Regions from separate parts of the Homo sapiens genome. Here region 2 is linked to region 1. A link means that fine-mapping ties the variant in region 1 to the expression of a gene that starts in the linked region. Tissue or cell type: unexposed skin. Region 1 holds a variant in brackets; the other region holds the start of a gene. All regions are shown on one strand. Distances are between the middles of the regions.

Region 1 (8,103 bases):
CTAGAATGTGTCCTCTGACCTGACCTGCAGCAGAAACTGCTGAGTACTCACACGAAAATGTCATCCCGAGGCATGATGTGGTTTAAACCTTCATCCATTTGGAAAATTTTGTGGAATCGGTGATTATACACATCTGCGACCACCATCTAAGAATGAACAGTAACAGAAAGACCACAGAATGGCTAAGAGTGCCCCTACTAACTGCTTAAAACCCAGAAACAAATGAAAAAAAAAATACTCATACTCAAATGTTGCCTCTAGAGAAACCACCACACAAACAGCCCCAGAGAGCTGAGGGCCAAGGCCCAAGGGGGAGCAGCATGGCTGCCATCAGAATTGAACATGCTGGTAGCATCTGCCCTCGACTGGCAGGAAGGGCGAGGAGTGTGGTGCTAACCAGAAACCAGCAGTTGTCCAGAGCCTCTGGAGTATTCCATAGTCTGCAGTCTCTATGCCACCCTCAGTGCACAGATCTGACAGCAGAGCCCTACTCCTGGTCCTTTGACCACGGCTAGTGTGAACCCAATGAAGGAAAGATAGTGTTTCCTGGAGCTGGAAGGGACAGTCTCAGTCACAATGTGCATAGTGAGTGAGGCATCCAGACACACACAAATAATCACATTTGTGCTGGCAATAACAACAACCCCAAAAAGTGGCTTCAAGGTTGAAAGTAAACTCCAAATGCTATGAAGTATCCCAAATAGACCGAGTGCCACTGATCACCCCGCCTTACATTTTCTGCAGCAATGCCAGACAGCCTGGAGAGAGCCTCGCACAGGTCGGACACAGCCCCCATCAGCGGCACAGTCACACGGTACTGCAAGACAGAGATGGTCAAGGTCACAGGGGTGCCCCACAAAGGGTGCGAAATGCATTAGGAGAAGCAGGCATCACTAGGGGCAGAGGAGCCCTTCTAGAAACAATGTATGGTGAGGTCAGGGTACAGATGAGTCAGAAGCAGAGCAAATAAGCAGGACCTCTATGTCAGCATCCTCCTCAATACACAGGCAGCAGCATGGGGGCTAGGCCATCTCTTTCTCTTCCAAACATTGCTTCATTTTATTCTTAATTCTTTAGAGTACTTTCTGAAGAACTGCTGAAATTATACAAATTCAAATTGCCATCTGGTCCTACCTTTTTATTTTATTTTTATTTTTTGTAGAGACAGGGTCTCAAACTCCTGGCCTCGAGCAATCCTCCCGCCTCAGCATCCCAAAGTGCTGGGATTACAGGTGTTGGCCACCAAGCCCGGCCTCAACTTTCTTTTTTTTCTTTTTTCTTTTTTTTCTGAGACACAGTCTTGCTCTGTCACACAAGCTGGAGCGCAGTGACGCGATCTTGGCTCACTGCAACCTCCACCTCCCGGGTTCAAGCGATTCTCCTGCCTCAGCCTCCTGAGTAGCTGGGATTACAGGCGCGCACCACCACGCCTGGATAATTTTTGTATTTTTAGTACAGACAGGGTTTCACCATGTTGGTCAGGGTGGTCTCGAACTCCTGACCTCGTGATCTGCCCGCCTCGGCCTCCTGAAGTGCTGGGATTACAGGGGTAAGCCACCGTGCCCAGCCTGCCTCAACTTTTTTTTTTTTTTGAGACGGAGTCTCGCTCTGTCGCCCAGGCTGGAGTGCAGTGGCGCAATCTTGGCTCGCTGCAAGCTCCGCCTCCCGGGTTCACGCCATTCTCCTGCCTCAGCTGCCCGAGTAGCTGGGACTACAGGCGCCCGCCACCATGCCTGGCTAATTTTTTGTATTTTTAGTAGAGACGGGGTTTCACCGTGTTAGCCAGGATGGTCTGGATCTCCTGACCTCGTGATCTGCCCGCCTCGGCCTCCCAAAGTGCTGGGATTACAGGCGTGAGCCACCGCGCCCGGCCCTCAACTTTCTTTAGAGACAAAGAAACCAAAACCAGAAGGCTAAGCAATACAATTACTCAGTGAGCCATCAGCAGGGTAAGACACTAAGACCTGCTGCTCACACCTCTCATCTGGCCTAATCTTCTGTACAGGCTGTCCTAGGTTATGTGAGGGTATATCTGAGTACGAAAAGAACCGTGCTTCTGGTTCCCCAACATTCAGATTCAAGAACCACTTAGTAGATCAGGTTACTTTAGTCGCGTGAATGAAGTGTGGCCAAAAAAGTGACAGAGGCCGGGTGCGGTGGCTCACGCCTGTAATCCCAACACTTTGGGAGGCCAAGATGGGCAGATTACTTGAGGTCAGGAGTTCTGGCCAACAAGGTAACATCCTGTCTCTACTATGTCTCTACTAAAAATACAAAAATTAGCTGAGCGTGGTGGTACACGCCTGTAATCCCGGCTACTGAGTGGCTGAGGTAGGAGAATCGCTTGAACCTGGGAGGAAGACGTTACAGTGAGCTGAGATCATGCCACTTCACTCCAGCATGGGCAACAGAGCGACTCTGTCTCAAAAAAAAAAAAAGTGACAGAGAAGCAAAGAAGCTGCAAAGACCTTCACAATAGGCCTTAAATGATATGGGATTAGACAAAGGTCTGATGGAGGCCAAGGGCCCATACCCAGGCAAGTACCAAGGGGACTCAGAGGCAGCCAATGCAGCAGATAGGAGCAGTCCCACTGGGATCTGGAGACCACTTGCAGTGAGGGGTGCCATAAGGGTGTGGATTCTGTCACCTGAGTAGGTCTGCAGTGAGGGTCAGCAGGAACCAGGAAAACCTCCATAACTCGATCTTTCTTCAAGGGCAGTGGCAGCGTTAGATAGCAAAATGGGTCAAAGGTCACAGAAACCTTAGCACATTCTGGGCAAACCAAAGTAGATTTGAAGAGGCCATGGAAAGTATCCACAATCACAGAATCATTCCTCAACCTGTGATTCTCCCAGGCTTCCTTTGCCACCACCTGCGTCAAAGGGATAAACAGGACATTCTCAACACCTCTCAGCCCCTTGCCCCTGCATCCAGAATGACTCACAGCAAACCTGGAGATGAATCAGGTGGCAATCTGTACAGCCAAGAGCTTGATCCAGGACAAACAAGGCCAGGACTACTCTTAGTGTATCATACTCATACCACATGCCAGCTCTACGCCCAATCCCCACCCCAACACACATATATATATTTCACATATATGTTTATATATATACATATTTCAAATATATATTATATTGATTGATTGAGACATGGTCTTGCTCTGTCGCTCAGGCTGGCGTGATCATGGTTCACTACAGCCTCAACCTCCCGGACTCAAAGCGATCTTCCTGCCTCAGACTCCCAAGTAGCTAGGACTATAGGCATGCATCACCATGCCTGGCTAATTTTTTTAGGTTTGGTAGGGATGGGGGTCTTACTATGTTGACCAGACAGTTCTAGAGCTCCTGGCCTCAAGTGATGCTCCCACCTCAGCCTCCAAAGTGCTGGAACCGCAGGGGAAAGCCACTGCGCCTCGCCCTAATCCTCACACTTAATAAGGTTGGCAACATAGGACCTATTGGAAACTAGGGGTCTGTGTGTCCTGATAAGAAACAGAAGCCCGGAGAACACTATCGGTACAGAGACATGGCCAGGGCAAGGAAAGCCCCCCTATATGTTTCCAGTGATCTAAAGTAAGGTTTTTGGCGGGGCACGGTGGCTGACGCCTGAAATCCCAGCACTTTGGGAGGCCGAAGCAGGCGGATCACCAGAGGTCAGGAGTTCAATATCAGCCTGGCCAACATGGTGAAACCCCCTCTCTACTAAAAATACAAAAATTTGCTGGGCATGGTGGCACGTGGCTGTAGTGCCAGCTACTTGAGAGGCTGAGACAGGAGAATCGCTTGAACCCGGGAGGTGGAGGTTGCAGTGAGCCAAGATCACGTCATTGCACTCCAGCCTGGGCAACAGAGTGAGACTCCATCTCAAAAAAAATAAATAAATAAATTTTAAAAATAAAGTTTTTATCTATACTACAGCTCAGCTAACTCATAGTTTTTCTAAGAAGATCTAAATTTTACTTTAAAGCATTCATATTGATTATCCCAATGTGATAGGGTAGCTGAAATACTAAAATCCTCTTGCACTGATCAGATAATCAAGGCAAAAGGTATAAATGTCCTAATGATACTAATAACAAATTAAGTAATCATGGATGGATTTTATTGTGAGCAATAACAATCTTAGGGGTCCTCACTATAGGTACTTTACAGTTTTCAGAGTGTTCTTAGTCCCTAGTTCACCAGTGAAATATCAAACAAGCTCACTCTAATTTGAAAAAGCCCAAGAGGAAGCCTTAGGAGTAACTAGGGTACAGTGCCTCACGCCTGTTGTAATCCCAGCACTTTGGGAGGCTGAGGTGAGAAGACTGCTTGAGCTCAGGAGCTGGAGACCAGCCTAGACAACACAGCAAGTTTCTGTCTCTATTTAAAAAAAAAAAAAAAAAAAGCAGTAACTACAGTTAGCCCCTTTCTGACCAGAGACCATATCCCTATAACTAGCTACAGTGAGAAGCAACCAGGGCCCTGGCAACAACACTCAAAGACCAGAAGAATATCCCTGCACTCTCAATAGGAGGCAGCTTCTTTGGCATATTATCATTCAGACATCATTAATGGCATACCGCATCTGGCCGCCCATTGGCATCCTTCAGCTCCAAGTAGGGCTTTTTCTTTACCCGGTTCAGATCTTCATGCAATCCATCTAGAAGAAAGGCCAGCAGCTCCTGAGAATCTTGTTGCTGGTAGCCAGAAAATTGAGGAGCAAAACGTCCTACTTGAGTCTACAACAAAAGCAACTGTATCAGAAGGCAT[A/T]ATACGTAAAGAACTAGTTAAATCAAAAAAGAATTGCCATCAAAAATAGCTCTGAGGAGTTAGCTGGGGCAGTGAGAGAGAACACTTGGTTGAGTAGTCCAATTAACTCCTGAAGAGCCTACAGGAGGCCAGTGGTTCCCACCAGAAAGAAGGCCTAGATCAGAGAGCCAGGAGGATGAACCTGGAACCTGGGCCACTGCCCTAAGTCCTAAGGAGGAAGGGTGGAGTACCCTGAGTAACCACACCCAAGTACTGACATGAATCCCTCTCCAACATGTCCTTCTTTGGTTCAGAGTCTTAAACTCCATAAGGACATTACAAACAATACTTTCATCAGCTGGAGGAATCCTCCTGTACATAACAGCCCTCAGGTCCCTAAATACTGTCTGTCCAGTAATACTCTCCACCAGTTATTCTGAGAGTATGGTCCCCAGTCGCAGCATTAGTATCACCTGGGAGCTTAGTAGAAAAGCACATTCTCAGGCCCCACACCAAACCTATTCAATCAGAAACTCTGGGGATGGGTCTAGCAGTCTGTGTTGTATTAAGCACTCCCAGAGATTGTGATGCATCCTATGGAGAACCAGCCAGGCACGGTGGCTCATGCCTATGATCCCAGAATTTTGGAAGGCTGAGGCAGGCAGATCACCTGAGGTTGGGAGTTCAAGACCAGCCTGGCCAACATGGTGAAACCCCGTCTCTACTAAAAATACAAAAATTAGCTGGGCATGGTGGTGCACACCTGTAATCCCAGCTACGCAGGAGGCTGAGGCAGGAGAATCACTTGAACCCAGGAGGCGGAGGCTGCAGTGAGCCGAAATTGTGCCAGTACGCTCCAGCCTGGGCGACATAGCAAGGCTGTCTCAAAAAAAAAAAAAAAAAAAAAAAAAAGGAGAACCACTGTTCTACACCTGTTCTCTAATACCATAGCCACTAGCCACATATGGCAATTGAAATTTACATTAATTACAATTAAAAACCATTAAAAATTCAGTTCCTCGGTCAAATGAACCACATCTCAAGTGCTCAGAGGTGCTTGAGCTGGTAGCTACCAAAACACAGTGCAGATATATAACACATCCATCACTGAGGAAGCTCCACACTTCCCTAATACCCCTAAACACTACCTTCCAGTTGTTTATTTACATTAGCTTCAGCACAGTGTGTTGCCACCCAATTCTTTTTTATTTTTTTTTCTGGGACAGGGTCTCACTCTGTTGCCAGGCTGGAGTGCAGTGGCGCAATCTCAGCTCACTGCAACCTCCGCCTCCCAGGTTCAAGCAATTCTCATGCCTTGGCCTCCCGAGTTGCTGGGATTACAGGCATATGCCACCACGCCTGGCTAATTTTTGTATTTTTAGTAGAGATGGGGTTTCACAATATTGGCCAGGCTGGTCTTGAACTCCTGACCTCAAGTGATCCACCCACCTTGGCCTCCCCATGGGCTGGGATTACAGGTGTGAGGCACCGCACCCAGCCGTTGCCACCCAATTCTAGTTTCTTTGTGACTTAGTATGTGAACAGTCATTTATATATTTCCCAGGGATTCATGTGACCAAGGGGATGAAAGATAATTAGTTTTCAATTTCAACAAACCACCTGAGATTTTAGTTTTCTCACTGAGCTAAGGTGCTATTTTTTTTCCTCTCTGAATCATAAATATGCATGTCTTTTCTTATCATATGCTTCATGAAGCTCCATGAATCCCAGTGGTACAGGCTAAATAGGATCTTTCAGATTTCAGCTTAAATCTGCTGAGCGGGAGGGAGCAAAGCACCTCCACCTCAGCAGGAAAAAGCAGTTGGGGCAATGGAAAGCCCAAGTTGCTCCGAGTGTATCCATGTCTTCTCCTTAAACCTTCCTGGCTGAGGGACCCCAGTGATAACTGCCCCTCACATCACCTTCCAAGAATGTGAGCCCAATTCCTGACTTAGGGGGTCCCAACTCAAACCACGAAGCCTGTAGAATCCAGGCTCAGAGAACCTGGAAACAGCCTTCAGATGATACTAGAAATTAAACTGAATTTTCATTTTTTTTAGAGACAGGGTCTCTGTCGCCAAGGCTGGGTACAGTGGCACAATCACAGCTCACTGCAGCCTTGACCTCCCAGGCTTAAGTAATTCTCCCACCTCAGCCTCCCTGGTAGCCGGGACTACAGGTACATCACCATGTCCAGCTAATTTTGTTGTTGTTGTTGTTGTTGTTGTTGAGACAGAGTCTCACTCTGTCGCTCAGGCTGGAGTGCAGTGGCGTGATCTCGGCTCACTGCACCCTCCACCTCCCAGGTTCAAGCAATTCTCCTGCCTCAGCATCCTGAGTAGCTGGAATTACAGGTGCGCACCACCACGCCTGGCTAATTTTTGTATTTTTGGTAGAGACGGGGTTTCACTATGTTGGTCAGGCTGATCTCGAACTCCTGACCTCGTGATCTGCCCGCCTCAGCCTCCCAAAGTGCTGGGATTACAGGAATGAGCCACCACGCCTGGACTTTTTTGTTGTTGTTGTTGTTTTTTCTTTGAGACAGAGTCTCGTTCTGTCACCCAGGCTGGAGTGCAGAGGCGCAATCTCGGCTCACTGCAAGCTCTGCCTCCCGGGTTCACGCCATTCTCCTTCCCCAGCCTCCCGAGTAGCTGGGACTACAGGCGCCTGCCATCACACCTAGCTAATTTTTTTTTTATGTATTTTTAGTAGAGACGGGGTTTCACCATGTTAGCCAGGATGGTCTCAATCTCCTGACCTTGTGATCCGCCCGCCTCAGCCTCCCAAAGTGCTGGGATTACAGGCGTGAGCCACAGCGCCTGGCCCAGATCCCATCTTAATCCCAAAATGCAACGAAAGGAATGCCTCATAACAACACTAAACCACTCTCCCCAAAGTGGGAAAAAGGAAGTACGGGAGAGTATCCCTTATCCAAAAATCTGAAATCCAAATGCTTAAAGATCCATAACCTAACACTGACATGATATTCAAAGGAAATGCTCACTGAAACATTTTAGATTTTGGAATGGGGATGCTGAACTAGTAAGCATAATGTAAATACCATAAAAAAAAATCCTAAAAAACCTGAAGTCCCGAAACATTTCTGGTCCCAGGCATCTATATACAGGGATACCCAACCCATATATATATATGTCTACCTACTTTGAACATGCGAGGTGCCACATGGGCGTCCCTTCCAGACCACATCTGCTTAATGAGTTCAGCATAGGCTTCTGCAATTTCCCCTTTCATCCCCAGAGGGTTGTCTCTGTTGATTTCGGCTTCATACTCATCTTTGAGAAAGTAGTCAGTCAGTGGTGCAGTGTTGCTCAAACACTGAAACAGAACATGATGAGGGCTTTACACACC
Region 2 (8,103 bases), 740 kb before region 1:
GAGACGTGCCTGGCAATGGGCAGTGTCTATGTTCCATTACTTCTACCCAAGGAGCAGCCACAAGTCCCTGGAGGGGGTGCCAGAATTGACTCCTGAACTGCAACTGCTCTCACCTCCTTAGGCCAGGCTAGGGAAGGAAGAGCTCTTTAAAATAAAGTAACGTGCCATGGAGGCCCTTTTCAGAGGGGACTGAAAGTCATCTCTCCTGTTGCCCTGTGCACACACCAGTCATGTCCTTACCCAGGAAGAGTCTTGCCACCTTTCAGCTGAGAAAAGCCATCAAACACCGTCCTTTCTGCAGTCCTTCTTGAGTCAGCTCTTGCCCCACCTGCCCTCAGAGTTCCTCCAGGTCTGAGCTCGGAGGCCAATGATGGGAAAGGTAAAAGCCTCCCAAGCCCTCAGGTGTGGCTTTAAATTTTATCAAGCGGGGGCGTGCCTGTGGGAGTGGAGGAGGTGCAGTACATCCCTCAGTCCACCAGCCCCTAGTGCCCTGAGGAGCTGGGGACTAGACTCCAGAGAAAACCCAGTACAAAGCACAGACCAGCAGTGGGTCCTGCTTCTTCCTCCCCACAAAGCCCTGGGACCAAATCCGCTTCCATCCCCACCCACACCCTCCGGGTCCAGACTGTCCTTGCAGTCACTCAACCTACAAGTCTACTATGCAAAGGGTAAAGTGTTGCCCAAATGCAGGCACTGGGAGCTGGAGGTGCTGCATGGGCGGGTTCCATGTTCATTCACTGCTTACCCACTCCCTGCTGTGAACCCTGAGGCCCAAATCCCCAAACAACCTGCAGGTCTCATCTTTGGCCTCTCAGGTGCTACCTCCTCCTCCAGGAAAAAGTGCGGACCTAGAACCCAGCCTACCCCAACACCCTGAGACACCGTGATGGCACGAGCCCCTCAGCTCAGGCCAGAGCCACATTTCAGTTCCACACTTAGAGCCTGGAGAAACACAAGCCCTGCCTCAGGAGCTATGAGACCTTCCCATTGGGCCTCAGCTTCCTCTCACCTGTAACGGGGGTTGGCTTGGAGCTGATGCATCAATCCCTGACTCAGACGTAGTGAGAAGCAAAGAAAGAATGGTAGTGATGACAGAATACCCTGCCTCCGCTTATTGAGGACCTACTCCTTAAAGGCTCACAGACTTGGCTAGGCATGGCAGCTCATGCCTGTAATCCCAACACTTTGGGAGGCCAAGGGGGGCAGATCATTAGAGATAACGAATTCAAGACGAGCCTGGCCAACATGGTGAAACTCCATCCTACTAAAAATACAAAATTAGCCGGCCATGGTGGCGCATACCTGTAATCCCAGCAACTTGGAAGGCTGAGGCAGGAGAATTGCTTGAACCCAGGAGGTAGAGGTTGCAGTGAGCTGAGATAGGACCACTGCACTACAACCTGGGCAACAAGAGTGAAACTCCGTCTCAAAAAAAAAAAAAAAAAAAAAGTCCAGGTCCTCACTCCTTTCCCCTATGTAGTAATAGCAGCCACCCCCCTAAGTCAGGACCACACAGCCCTAATAACACAGACTGGCTCAGCCTCCCCGCCTCCAGAAGAGTCTCAAAGGAGGGGTGGCCATAGCCCTCAGGACTGAGTGTGCATTATAGACAGCACAGCCCCACCAGGACCTACATCACAATCAAAGCCATGAGTTACCACGACTTGGTCTGGTCAGAAACATGGCCTTCCCCTGCCAGGACTCACAGTGTGGCCAGAAATACACACACCCTTCCCCCAGGACTCATATCATGATCAAAGCCATGGCTCCAGGCTGCTGCAGCAGGATGAGCACAAAGAACTCTCCCCTTGCTTATCATACATAAGCAGAGGCAGGATCACAGGGAGACCCAGGCATGTCACTCAATCTCCTGATCTCCATTTCACTGTCTGTTAAACTAGATGTTCTCTGAGGTGCTGGACAAGCTGCAAATTCATTACAATGTTTCAGTTACTCCTAAAACAAATCTTTCTTTTCCTGGTAATAAAAAAGTTGCAGGCCAGGACCCACGCCTGTAATCTCAACACTTCGGAAGGCCGAGGCCAGAGGATCCACTTGAAGCCATGAGTTGGAGACCAGCCCAGACAACATAGCAAGACCCTGTCTCTACAAAAAAAAAGAAAAAAGAAAAAAAAAAGCTGGGTGTGGTGGCGCACCTATAATCCCAGCTAATCGGGAGGTTGAGGTGGGAGGATTGCTTGAGCCCAGAAGGTCGTGGCTGCAGTGAACTATGATCGCGCCACTGCACTTGCTCCAGCTTGGGCCACTGAGCGAGACTCATCTCTTAAAAAAAAAAAAAACTGCCAGCTCATTTAAGGACAGGCAGAAACTCAAGGAAGCGGTTTAAACACCTGGGACCCTAGGAGAGGTGAGCCCCTTAACAATTCCATGAATTTCAGCATTCTCCTAGCTGTTTCACTCTCCAGTTTTACTGTACACCCATGACCCCAGGTGGATACTTACATGTCCCGGGACACAGACACAGGCCCACACGGCATACTTTTCTGTCTCTATCCTGAGCACATCTCTGCTGAAGTTCCTGCCCAAGCTCAGCTTTAAGGCCAAGAGGCACCCTTCCTCCTGTTGGAAAACTAGCCCACCTTTGAAAGTTCTGGGCTCAGAGAGGCCAAGTAATTCACCTAGGGCCACACAGCTCAGTTCCAGTCCAACAACCCGGCCCACACTCCTTGGCCAGGAGAGAGGGAAGGGCCTGGGGTGCCCACAGGGTCCTCCCCAGACTGGGGGCGATGGGGATTGGAGAGGGAAGCGAGGGGGCCAGAGCCCTCCCCGAGGTGATGGTGGCCAGACCTAGCCACCGCCAAGCCGATATGCCCCCACACACCTGTCCCCGCCCCCTGCTCTGCCACACCTGTCTCTGGCCCACCACTGTCACGACCGCCTCACCTGTCCCCAGCAGCCTCCCCAGTCACGGCAACCTCACCTGTCCCCGGTTCCCCATCTGTCTCCCGCCCCTTCTCCATGCGAGACCCCCGCCCAGGCCGCCCTACCCACCCATCCCGGTGCACCTCCCACCTCCTCCCAGAGGACCCCGCCTCACCACCGCGCTGGCAAGCGTGCAGAGCGGGCCGCCCATTGCTGTATGGCATCCAGATCTTCTTCAGGGGGTTCTGTGTCAATTCCCGTGGGGACGCCATCCCGGGGCCGGGATGAGTCGGACTGCGCCGCTTCCAACCCAGCAGCCGGGCCACCTCGGGCCACCCGAGGTCCCGCCCCTTGGGCCCCGCCCCTCCTCAAGCCGCGACAGCCCATGTCTATCTTCCCGCAGGTCCCGCCCCAGAGTGAGTAGGCTCCGCCCCAGCTGAAAGGGGCCCGGCCTCCGACCACGCATGCCCAACTCACCTACCCGCCCGTTTTGGAACAAGTGGGCCCAGTTCTTCAGGCCAGGATCGAGAATGCGCATGCTCAACTCCGGATTGTACTGGTCCCGCCCCAGTTCAAGGCCCGGATTGTGCAGGCCCGCCCCGGATGCGCAAACTCAGCTCTCCCAACCTGCCCGCGCTGATTTGCATAGGCCCCACCTACGGGCTCCGCCCTGGCGCTGCATCCCTGAGCAGCGGCACGCGTGAATTCTGCTACCTCCTTGCTAGGGAGCCCAGGGCCCCCAGGAGGGAGGGGTTTTCATGCAGTGGGACGAGGCCTACGTGACCCGCACGGCCAGGTTGGTCAGAGCCGACAGGGGCCAGTAGGCCTGCAGTCCCAGCCGTCAACTCCGCTGCGCCCTCCTGCCCCTCCTCGGGGTCCCCCTTGACTGCTCCGAGCCCCGGGACTCTTCCGCCGTCCATAGGAGCATGCTCAACCACGCTGGAAAAGCTCTTTTACCTCATGGATAGAGACTCAAAACACATTTCAATATTGTTCCTCTTTCTTTGCTTTGGCTGCTGGGAGCAAATGCGTGGGACTTTTTTTTTTTGAGACGGAGTTTCGCTCCTGTTGCCCAGGCTGGAGTGCAATGGCGCTATCTTGGCTCACTGCAACCTCCGCCTCCCGGGTTCAAGGGATGCTCCTGCCTCGGGTTCCCAAGTAGCTGGGATTACAGGCGCCCACCACCACGCCCTGCTAATTTTTGTATTTTTAGTAGAGGCGGGATTTCACCACGTTGGCCGGGCTGGTCTCGAACTCCTGACCTCAGGTGATACGCCCTCCTCAGCCTTCCAAAGTGCTGGGATTACAGGCGTGAGCCACCGCGCCCGGCCGTGCGTGGCACTTAGTAACCAAGTACTTTGGGTACTCACTAAGCCCTGGGAGTATCTTAATCGTCTTTCCAGAATTTCATTTTTTACAATTTTTTTTTGATTTTTAGTATTTTGGTTTTTTTAACTAAAGTTTTACATATTTTTTGAAAATAATATGTTAATAACATTTTCTCTTCAGGAAAATGGGATGTGCACATTGTCTATCTTACAGTATTACAGTATAAATTAAGTATGTCAATCTCTAAGAAATTCATTTTAAAATACGTTATGGTTGCCTTTTACTATATTTGTATCTCCCTCTTGTCTTTGAAAATGCACTGGGGACAAGGAACAAGGGAGAGATCCAGAAGTTCCTAAACCCCTGGCTCACTTTCTTGTTTGGCCCCCACCGGACTCCTGCAGTTTCCCGCCTCCTCGGGATCCCCAGCCCCGCCTCTCCAAGCTTTGTACACTCTCTGCCCCAGCCCCCACCAACACGGCTTCAACCTGAGCCACACTGCCCTCTAGCGATGTCATCCACAACACCCCTGGCAGGTGCCCTGCATCCTCAGGTTCTCTCTGCCCAGTGTGTACCCAGCCAGGAGCCAGGTGTTGAGGGCATGGGACTGGCAACAAGACTGGCCTCGTGGGCTATAGGTGTAGCACCCCCTCCCATGCCCTCCCTGCCACAGCCCTGCCTTGGATCAGTCCAAGTCCACCCAGCTCTTTAAAGCTTGGCAAGGACCCTTAAGATGACTGACACAGATGTCTTGCCCACTTCATAGGAACTGAAGATTCCAAAGGTCCACATGCTGGAAGCCCATCTGGACCCTCCCCCAAACCAGCTCTAGCTGCTTGCCCTGGGAACACCCTGCCCCAGGCAGAGTCAACAACTTCCTCCTTCCTCATCCTCCTTTTGCAGTATCTACCCGCTTATTCCTCCACCCCAGTCCCAGCAGATCTGAGCACATCCATGGGCGGCTCCTGATGAGCTGGGTGCCCCTCGTGACCTGCTCCCTACTTCTCCAAAGCCACTCATTCTGTTCGTGACACAGCCAGCCCTCTTGTCTTCTGGCCACTGCCAAGGCCATCTTGGGGCCACCGTGGCCTCTGAGACCTCATTACCACATGCCCACACCCTGTCTAACCCGCAGCACTCATTGCAAAAGCTATCTCCTCTGATATCTACAGACACCCAGCACCTCCTCTGGCCTGTCCATTCTCTTCCCAGACCTCCTGGGATGCTAATCAAGGGCTGGGGGTAGAGGACAGCTGGCCTGGGCAGGGGGCCAGGGCTATCTCTGGGAAGGCATCCTCACACCCAGACAGGATGAGCCTGGTTCCCAGGAAATGCAACAGCTCTGCACCTTCCTCTCTTCCCCAGAAAGTCTACCCGTGGCTGACCCAGGCACCCTCCTTCAAGGCCCTATGTCCAGCTGGAAGGCCACAGGTCAACATCAGGAGATGCCTGGGGTTCCTCCCCAAGGCCACCGTCCACATCTGCTCTGAGGATATTCTCCATCTCCCCTCCCATGGCCCTGTTTGTCAGGTGGGAAACTGAGGGTCAGGAAGAGGGAGAAGGGTCCAAGATCACAAAGCGAGTCCACAGTGCAGCATGGACTCAGCTCAACTCCCAGCCTTCCAGACCTTGCCTGCCACACTACAGTGGAATCGCACAGTCCACCTTCACATGTGTGCTCCCACTCCCCTGTGTCCTCTCCATGGAGATGCTGTCCCAGCGTCTGCTCTCTCAGCATCAGCGGATGCCCGGTAGAATCTCTGGCCCTCATGGCTTTTTCCTCCTCAGTATATCCGAAAGTGAGCCAGCTGTTCTGTCCCAGGCGTGGGAAGTATGCTGGGATGTCTGTACACACGTGTGAACATGTTCTGCTCAGCCTCTGCCCACCATGAACCTGGCTGGCCTGACCCTGGTTGGCTCCCAGGGTGCCCTCTGCACTGACCACTGGACTTCCTCCCAGTGTCCCAGCCTAGAAGCCATGTGGTGGCCAGTTCTCAAAGCTCAAACTCTTCCCAGTCCCTGTATCTACTGGCCAGTCCTGACAGAACTGCCAAACCATCCCACCACACACACACACACACACACACACACACACACACACACACACACACACACAGTCTCGCTCCTGTTACCCAGCCTGGAGCACATAGTGCAATCATGGCTCACTGCAGCCTTGAACTCCTGGCCTCAAGCGATCCTCCCGCCTCAACCTCCCAAAGCCCTGGGTTTATAGCCATTAGCCACCACATCTGGCCCACAAACCACCCTTTGCAGCATAAAGACCCAGGGGTTTCAGTGCATGCCACACAGGCCCACACACTGATGCACACAGAGACACTGGCACAGCTGCACATGCACACACAGACGCACACACACTCACAAGTCCTGCACCCCAGCATGTGCAGAGACAGGCAGGCTGCAGTGGGGCCTGCTGCTCTCTGCTGCCTCCCTTCCCACATATATCTCTCCACCCCCAGCCCTGCTGTCCACTGGGAGGTTCAGGAGTTTCCAGGAATTCCAGCTTCCTCTGGCCATTTCCAGCAAAGGATTGTCCCCTGTGTCTCCCTGGGCCCAGGGCTCACAAGGAGTGTGAAGTTCTGACTTCAGGTTATAGAACCATGTCACCAAGCAGCCTGGGAACCCTGATCTGCACTTCCTCCTTCCAGCCTGCCACAGGGCGTACAGTAGGTGCTTAGGGATTCAGGACCAGCAAGGGCACACAGAAAGGGTTCAGAGAGGTTCATGACCAAACTGAGTACACAGCAGGTGTTCAGAGAAGCTCAGGACTGGCACAGGGCACACAGCAGACACCCTAGAAGTGCTGGTTTAAGGGCTAAAGCCACATCATGTGAAACCCATCCTAAATGAGCCTCTAGACTTCCCCAAACTGGTGTGACCCCAAGAGGAAACCTGGACAAACATGATCCCTTGGAGGCCAGCAAAGAGCAGAGCAGGAGGGCCTGGGCAGCGCCAGCTGGCGGTCCCTCCCCCTGGGCTGGAGGAAGACACTATTTATAGTTCCCCCTTGGCCCAGCCCCCTCTCCCTTGCAGGGCGACAGTTTTCCCCCTCCTTCGGGCCACTGACAGATGAATGGCCCTCAGAGCACCCCTAAACCAGGAGAGACCCCCCAACACTCTCGCACCCCTCCAGCACCACCCTGACTTCATCCAGGTCTTTCCCTAACCCTCCACCCTCCCCACGCTGTCCCGTGCCTACCCCGCCTGCTGCTCCCCGGCCCCAGGTCGGTCAGGGAGCTGCCTCCTAACGAGCCTCTGTCCATCCTGCAACCAAACTGGCCAGGGCCACTGCCCCCTGCAGCTCCAGAGTGGGGTAACCCCGCCTAGCACTCTGAAGAGAGAGAAGCGACTCCTGCGGCTCCTGCAGCCCCGCCTCCCCAGCCCACTGTAGGCCCGCCCCCACAGGGCTGCTTACAACTGTGAGGGCAGCGCCAGTGCCCCCACTCCAGTCAGCCGGCCACGCTGTGGCCAGTACAGTCTCCCTCTCCCGCCAGAGCTGCCCATGCCACCCAGCGTCTGCCTTCATGTCCACCTAGAGTTGTCTGCACAGCCCAGAGTGCCTGCCCCCTCTGCGGGCAAGCCCGTCCACACTGCCTGGAAAGTCAGTTCTGTCTCTGGCCCAGCAATGGAGTTGGGCTGTGAAATCAGGCAAAACCTAGTCCTTCCAAACCAAGGGACCAGGTCAGTTAACCGGGGAGCTAGGGAGGAAGGCAGAGAAGCCAGGTATGACTCACCCACCATGTGTCGCGGCCTGGGTGCACACCACTGGGATTCTCGCACATCCCATCCTTCAGTCGCTTTGTGTTTATTGAGCACCTCCTGCTGCAGGACCTCCATGTCTGCTACATACACAATGCTCACAGGCTTGCTGGT

Evidence for each region. PIP is the estimated chance that this variant, and not a neighbour inherited with it, causes the effect.
Region 2: PFKFB4 starts here. The variant in region 1 is fine-mapped to the expression of PFKFB4 in unexposed skin (GTEx, PIP above 0.99).

The regions. Positions count from the first base shown.
Region 1 is chr3:49,297,819-49,305,921 of GRCh38, forward strand. It overlaps USP4 (ubiquitin specific peptidase 4), which reads right to left. Exons shown (of 22, transcript NM_003363.4): 9 at 7,897-8,070; 10 at 4,566-4,724; 11 at 2,649-2,873; 12 at 734-817; 13 at 52-146. Among named protein-coding and RNA genes, the nearest start is that of C3orf62, 25 kb to the left of the region's middle. RefSeq lists a silencer at 6,037-6,086. The variant A/T (reference allele first, on the strand shown) is at 4,756.
Region 2 is chr3:48,553,623-48,561,725 of GRCh38, forward strand. PFKFB4 (6-phosphofructo-2-kinase/fructose-2,6-biphosphatase 4) reads right to left here and starts at 3,181. Exons shown (of 14, transcript NM_004567.4): 1 at 3,059-3,181. The coding sequence starts at 3,155. UCN2 (urocortin 2) reads right to left here. Exons shown (of 2, transcript NM_033199.4): 2 at 8,096-8,103. RefSeq lists enhancers at 3,584-3,673, 3,804-3,893, 5,644-6,585, 6,641-6,780.